2 linked regions of the Homo sapiens genome follow. The protein of the gene in region 2 purifies or fractionates together with the protein of the main gene of each other region. This does not show direct contact. Each region holds a gene or a part of one and is shown on either strand. Other genes may lie near its edges.

Region 1 (2,831 bases), on a different chromosome or scaffold from region 2:
GAGGCTGAGGCAGGTGGATTGTTTGAGGCCAGGAGTTCAAAACCAGCCTGGCCAACATGGTGAAACCACGTCTCTACTAAAAATGGAAAAATTAGCTGGGTGTGGTGGCACGTGCCTTTAATCTCAGCTACTTGGGAGGTTGAGGCACGAGAATCGCTTGAATCTGGGAGGCAGAGGTTGCAGTGAGCTGAGATCACGCCACTGCACTCCAGCCTGGGTAACAGAGTGAGAAAAAAAAAAAAAAGGCATGGGTTTGAGTCCTGAGTCTGCCTCTAGTTGAGTGCTCTTGGGCAAGTTACTTCCATCTCTGAGCCTTATTTTCTTCAGATGTATAATGATAGTACTAATCCTTTTTTACTTAGAGAGGCAGTGTCTAATACAGTACCCCCTACCCACTTGTGACTAAGGAGCATTTGAAATGTGGCTAATGTGACTGAGGAACTGAATTTTTCATTTAATTTTAATTAATTAAAAAATGATACTCTGTTATTGGAAAACTTTTAAGTATGTTTGGAACAGCTTTAGTATATAAATCAACTGTTAAAACCATAAATTTTATGAAAGTTAAATACAGATCAACTATTTCCAATGAAAATTTAATATCCAAATTAAGGTGTGCTGTAAGAACATATCAGATTTCAAAGACTTAATATAAAAACAATCTCTTTAATAATTTTTATATGAGTAGGTGTTAAATTACAACATTTTGGATTAATTAAAATATTAAAATTTTTGCCTTTTTTGGCTGGGCGTGGTGGCTCATGCCTGTAATCCCAGTACTTTGGGAGGCCGAGGCAGGTGGATCACGAGGTCAGCAGTTCGAGACCAGCCTGGCCAAGATGGTGAAACCCCGTCTGTACTAAAAATACAAAAAAAATTAGCCAGGCATGGTGGCAGGCACCTGTAATCCCAGCTACTCGGGAGGCTGAGGCAGAGAATTGCTTGAACCCAGGAGGCAGAGGTTGCAGTGAACCAATATCACGCCACTGTACTGCAGCCTGGGCAACAGAGTGAGACTGTCTTAAAAAAAAAAATTGCCTTTTTACAAACTTTTTTGTTAATATGGCTACTAGAAAACTTGATTCTATATATGGCTTCATTTATATTTCTATTGGATAGCACTGACAGAATTTTTTTGAGAGTCAGTAAAATAATCTATTTGAACTGTGTTGTAAGCCACAATAGCTATATATATATATATATATATATATATATATATATATATTTATATTTTCGACAGAGTCTTGCTCTGTCGCCCAGGCTGGAGTGCAGTGGTGTCATCTCAGCTCGCTGCAACCTCCGTCTCCCGGGTTCAATTGATTCTCCTGTCTCAGTCTTCTGAGTAGCTGGGATTACAGGCGTGCGCCACCAAGCCACGCTAATTTTTTTTATTTTTAGTAGAGACGGAGTTTCACCATGTTGGTCAGGCTGGTCTCAAACTCCTGACTTTGTGATCCACCCGCCTCTGCCTCCCAAAGTGCTGGGATTACAGGCATGAGCCACCACGCCTGGCCTGCAATGGCTATATTTTTGTTAATATGATAGTTCGGCAAGCCTGATAGGCTTTTGAGGCATACAGAAATAAACGTATGCCATCACCTGAGATTTTTAAGCATCCAAGATGCTTTAGTTTACTTTTCTTAGAGGAAACAGTGAAAAGAATATGTGGTTTAAAAATGGTCATAAAAAGGACACTAAATAACCTGATTAAGCTAGAGTATAGACCAAATTGCCACTTACTTTGAATTGTTTTTACCAAAGGTATCACTTTGAATAAAGATAACTTTCATTTAGACATCTATCTTTATGTGTTCCTGCCATCATTTCAGTGAGATCAGAGGAAAGTTAAATTAGAACAATGAAAAAGCTTAAGAAATGAACAATCATCATGCTTTTGTGTATGCTTAAAGTGAGTACATGTAAAAAAACATCAAACAGAATGTAGACTGTGGTACTTGAGTATACCTGGGAGAGCTAATTGCATTAATAACATATTATGTAGTTTCATGGCTAAGAACAGTGGCATCTAGTTTTCTGCCTATAGGGGAAGGAAGATCTATGAACCTCCACGGTATATGAGTGTAAACCAAGCAGCCCAGCAGCTTCTGGAGATTGTTCAAAATCAAAGAATACGAGGAGAAGAACCAGGTACTCAAGACACTAGAAGGGCTCTCATATTATTCCTCTGTTACTACATTTAGATGTGTATATGACTTAATATCTCATACCACTATGGAAGCAAGAGTCAGTATTTTTGTATTGTACTATTTCTTGTCATTTTTGTCCAACTTTAACTTAAATCCCATAGGCTTCAAGTTGTAGTGAAAGAAAAAAAAATTGGCATTCTTTTATAGTATAATTAACACCATTCCAGAAAGTGAGGATTTTTCACAAATTAAACATAAGTCACATTTGATATAAATATATTACTGTATAAATATTTTTGTAAAATATATCTATTATGTTATCCCTAATCAATGGTGAGATCTATCCTGCAAAAATATACTTATCGTTCTTTTATTCTCCCTCCTTTCATTCTTAATATTGAGACTAGGAATAGTTTTCTTCAGGGTAAATATAAGAGAAAATTTGTTCTTATATTCCTAATATGTAGACACAGTGTGTGGTATATAATAGAAATGTTTATTGTCAATAAATCTTTATGGGAGGTTCTTTTTTTTTTTTTTGAGAGAGGGTCTCACTTTGTCACGCAGGCTGGAGTGCAGAGGCACTATCTCAGCTCATTGCAGCCTCCACCTCCTGGGCTCAAGTGATCCTCCCACCTTAGCTGAACTACAAGTGCATGCCACCATGCCCAGCTAATTTCTTTG
Region 2 (3,500 bases):
ATAGGCTGCTTAACAAATCCCCTTCACTAAGAATGATTTTTGTCCCAACCTTGTCTGACTTTGGCCTTATCCTAGAAGCCAATATTTATGCCATTACAGGTAAAATCTCCTGTTTCCTCCCTCAGCCAATAGCAAAAATAACAAAATGACTCAGCAGCTTCGTCTCTGCAAGAATGGAGTGGCAGATGTCCAGGGAAAGGTGCATTTGAGGGAATATTTTCTTTGTCTCAATTTATTCATGGTAGTTGGGGCTTTTCTTTTGCATTTCTTTCTTTTTTCTTCTCTTCCATTTGTTATTGTTCTTACAAGAAAGAGCTTTACTCATGGGTGGGTGCCTCATTTCTGTCCACTCCAAAAGGGAAGAAAGAAACTGGCAAATTGGAAAAAAGATGATGATGATGTGGGAGGTGAGGGAGTAGTCACATAGAATTGCAGTCACATAGAATTGCTTGTGGGCAGGCAAACAGTTGGCTTTCCTCCTCATCTGGAGGAGGGTCTGGGCAAATTTTCTGGACACTAGTGCCCTAAGTTAAGTGGAACATGTGGTTTTAGGTTCCTACTTCCCAGAAAAGAGCAGAGGAGGCATAGAAACCCTTTTGAGATGGGTGCTATTAGGAGCCTGAGGCTACATTTTACCCCTCCTTCAGAGTCTTCTTCGGATACCAGGATTTAACATCTACGGCCCTCTCCCCCCAACTAAAACCTTTTTGGTGGAAATGATCCCAGCTAGACATCTTAACCTCCAAAGGAATATAGATTAAAGACTGGGAATTTGGGGCCAGGCACAGTAGATTGCACCTGTAATCCCAGCACTTTGGGAGGCCAAAGTGGGAAGGTCACTTAAGGCCAGGAGTTCAAGACTAGCTTGGTCAGCATAGCAAGACCCCATCTCTACAAAAAAAGTGTTTTTTAAATTTAGCCAGATGTGATGGCTCCTGCTTGTAGTCCTAGCTACCCAGGAGGCTAAGACAGGAAAATTCCTTGAGCCCAGAAGGGATGCAGTGAGCTCTTGAGGCTGCAGTGAGCTGTGATCATACCATTGCCCTCCAGTCTGGATGACACAGAGAGACATTGTCAAAAAAAAAAAAAAAAAAAAAAAAAAAAGGACTGGGAATTTTGAAACTGGAAATGATTTTATAAATCTTGTCTGTCCTCTCTCAGGGCCATTTGTGTCCTAAGCCCTACTCTTTCATGGTGAACAGAGCTATGAAAGGGACAAAAATTATAGACTTTGGAGTTAGACTTACTTGGATTGAAATCCCATCCTTTACAGGCCAGCTATGCCCTTATGCAAGTATTTTAACCTTTTGAAATAATATCAGTGTCCTTGTAAATTAGATATAATAATGCTTCTCTTGAAAGGTTGTTTTGAGCTTTAGAAACAATAGTTGTCAAAAGTCTTGCACAGTATAGCTGGCACAGTATATATAGATGCTTAATTGACAACGCGGCATGAAACACTGTTTCTGCTAAAGGGATATTAGAATATGGAGAACAGGTCAGAGGGAAAATTTGGAGAGCTCTTCCTGTACCTAAAGTTACATTTCTGAGGGCTTTTTACAGTTACTCTGATTAATTTGATGAAAATATTGAAACAAACAGCATAGCCATGTATTTGTAAATTCTTTTTTTGGTACCTAGGTCCCGAACCTCCTAGGCTCTGAGGGAATTGTATTTATGGAGAAAGCCGAGAATATTTTTCCTTAGCTTCTAGAACCTTCTAATGACATTGAAGGTTTTTTTGTTCAGGTTTTTTCTAACCACCTCAGGCACTCTGCCACTTTTTTGAAGTGTGAATTGCCTGCTGTCAGCCTGGAGTTCTCACCTCCGCAATCCTGGCTGCAGGCATATTTGCATATTGGATGCTGTGTTCCTTAACCCCCTGAGGTTTGAATCCACTTGGAGTCTGTGTGTGAAAGCTGGCTACTTTCAAACCCATGAACAGTTTCAGCTTTGTGGTCTCCAGAAAAACAGAAAACCCCCAACAATAGTTCCATTCACTTTTATGTAAATGGCACTCTTCAGGAAAACACTGGGCTATTTCCCAGGGCCCCAGAACATACTCAAACATTTGTTTGAGTGGGAGGTGGGGAGAGAGTTCTTTTGAGTCAATGAACATCTGTTCAGAACTGCTGTGCTGGGTCCCAAGAAAACAGAGCTTATAATCTGTCTCTTCCCTGCCAGAGGTACCAGCAGAGATTTACTATACTAGGTATATGTGCTTGTGGTGGCATTGTACTGTGTCAGTTTAGCTAAGCTGGATTCCCAGTATCCTTCCTATCTGCTTCCAGGTGAGGGTTGTCCACAAGAAAATTTCGTGAGAGATTTGGAAAGCTGAATTGAAGTAGCAGCCAGTACACTGTGAAGGACAGAGCAGGGTCTGTACGCTGTGAAGGACAGAGCAGGGTACCAGGCATAGTGGCAGTACCTGTACTTTCTCTCTGATCTGGCTCACCTTGTTGGTGAAGGTCATCACACAGCCCCCAGCACCCCTAGCTCCTACTGAATTTCCTCCTTCAGCTCCTCTGAGTCCTGGGCCATGTGTGCAGTCAGCTCTGTAGCAGAGGGCTCCGGCTTCTCCAGATCACCTGAGTCACTGAGCTTGGGACCAGTGAAAGGAAGTTGTGGGTTTCAGTTTGTCCTCATGAGTTCCAGTTGTCCTTGTAGATCCCAGTTTGTTCTCAGAGGTTCCAGTTTGTCTTTGTTCTCTTCCACCTCACATCCAGTTTTCTTCCCAACTGCTGGCCTCACAGACTTCGGGCCCAACACCAGGTGCAGAGGCAGCAGAGTTGCATGGATTTATCCACCAACTTCCAAAGATACACAGTGTCTACTCCTTATAATAAATCTTTAGTTTTCTGTCACTCATAGCGTTTGCTTCCCTGATTGAACTTTAAATTTGTTCAAGCCGTGTTAAGGATGCAGAGCATGGAAGTGATTAGAAGCCAGAAAGCTTCACAGAGGAGGTGACATCTGAGCTGCTTCTGACGAGTAGGAGGTTGTGTGTATAGAGTGGGTAGGAGGAATTCTAGAGAATAGCTGGCTCAAGCCAAGCAATTGAAAGAGCAGTGAGGAGTTCTGTATTTCTAGAAGAACTGTTCTTTCCATGGGTCCAGAATATAGATGGAGAATGAGCATCTGATCCTAGCTCTTCTGGCGCCATTGAGATTAACTGTTAGCTGATGTGGTTCTTAGATGTGGTCATCCCTAATACACTGGCATCCACTGAAATACATTCTTGCTAGGGTACACCCTTGTCACTACCCTAAGATTCCTCCCCCACCCCACCGCTGCTTTCCTCTCCCCAGTGGTTCCATGTGGCTAACCCAGGCTTGTCTTTCTTGGCTCCCCATGCAGGCATCTTTGCTTGTCCATGTTGTGTTGATGGTGGCAGTGGTATGGAGTTCCTGTCTTAGGCAGGGCACTGTGCCCTCTAGTCTTGGATCCCTAAGCTTATTTAGGGGTTCTAACATTGATTCCATGGGACCTTCTAGTCTTGG

Evidence for each region. Proteins that work in one complex are often made in the same cells at the same time.
Region 1: the proteins of NUDT2 (region 2) and DPH5 fractionate together in Homo sapiens (co-fractionation; one large-scale study listed by BioGRID). This does not show direct contact.

What each region holds. Positions count from the first base shown.
Region 1 is NC_000001.11:100,991,954-100,994,784, reverse strand, and holds part of DPH5 (diphthine methyl ester synthase), read left to right. Parts: intron 1-2,044; coding exon 2,045-2,148; intron 2,149-2,831. UniProt on the Homo sapiens protein: S-adenosyl-L-methionine-dependent methyltransferase that catalyzes four methylations of the modified target histidine residue in translation elongation factor 2 (EF-2), to form an intermediate called diphthine methyl ester.
Region 2 is NC_000009.12:34,332,569-34,336,068, forward strand, and holds part of NUDT2 (bis(5'-nucleosyl)-tetraphosphatase [asymmetrical]), read left to right. Parts: exon of another isoform or gene 1-1,103; intron 1,104-3,500. UniProt on the Homo sapiens protein: Catalyzes the asymmetric hydrolysis of diadenosine 5',5'''-P1,P4-tetraphosphate (Ap4A) to yield AMP and ATP. Exhibits decapping activity towards FAD-capped RNAs and dpCoA-capped RNAs in vitro.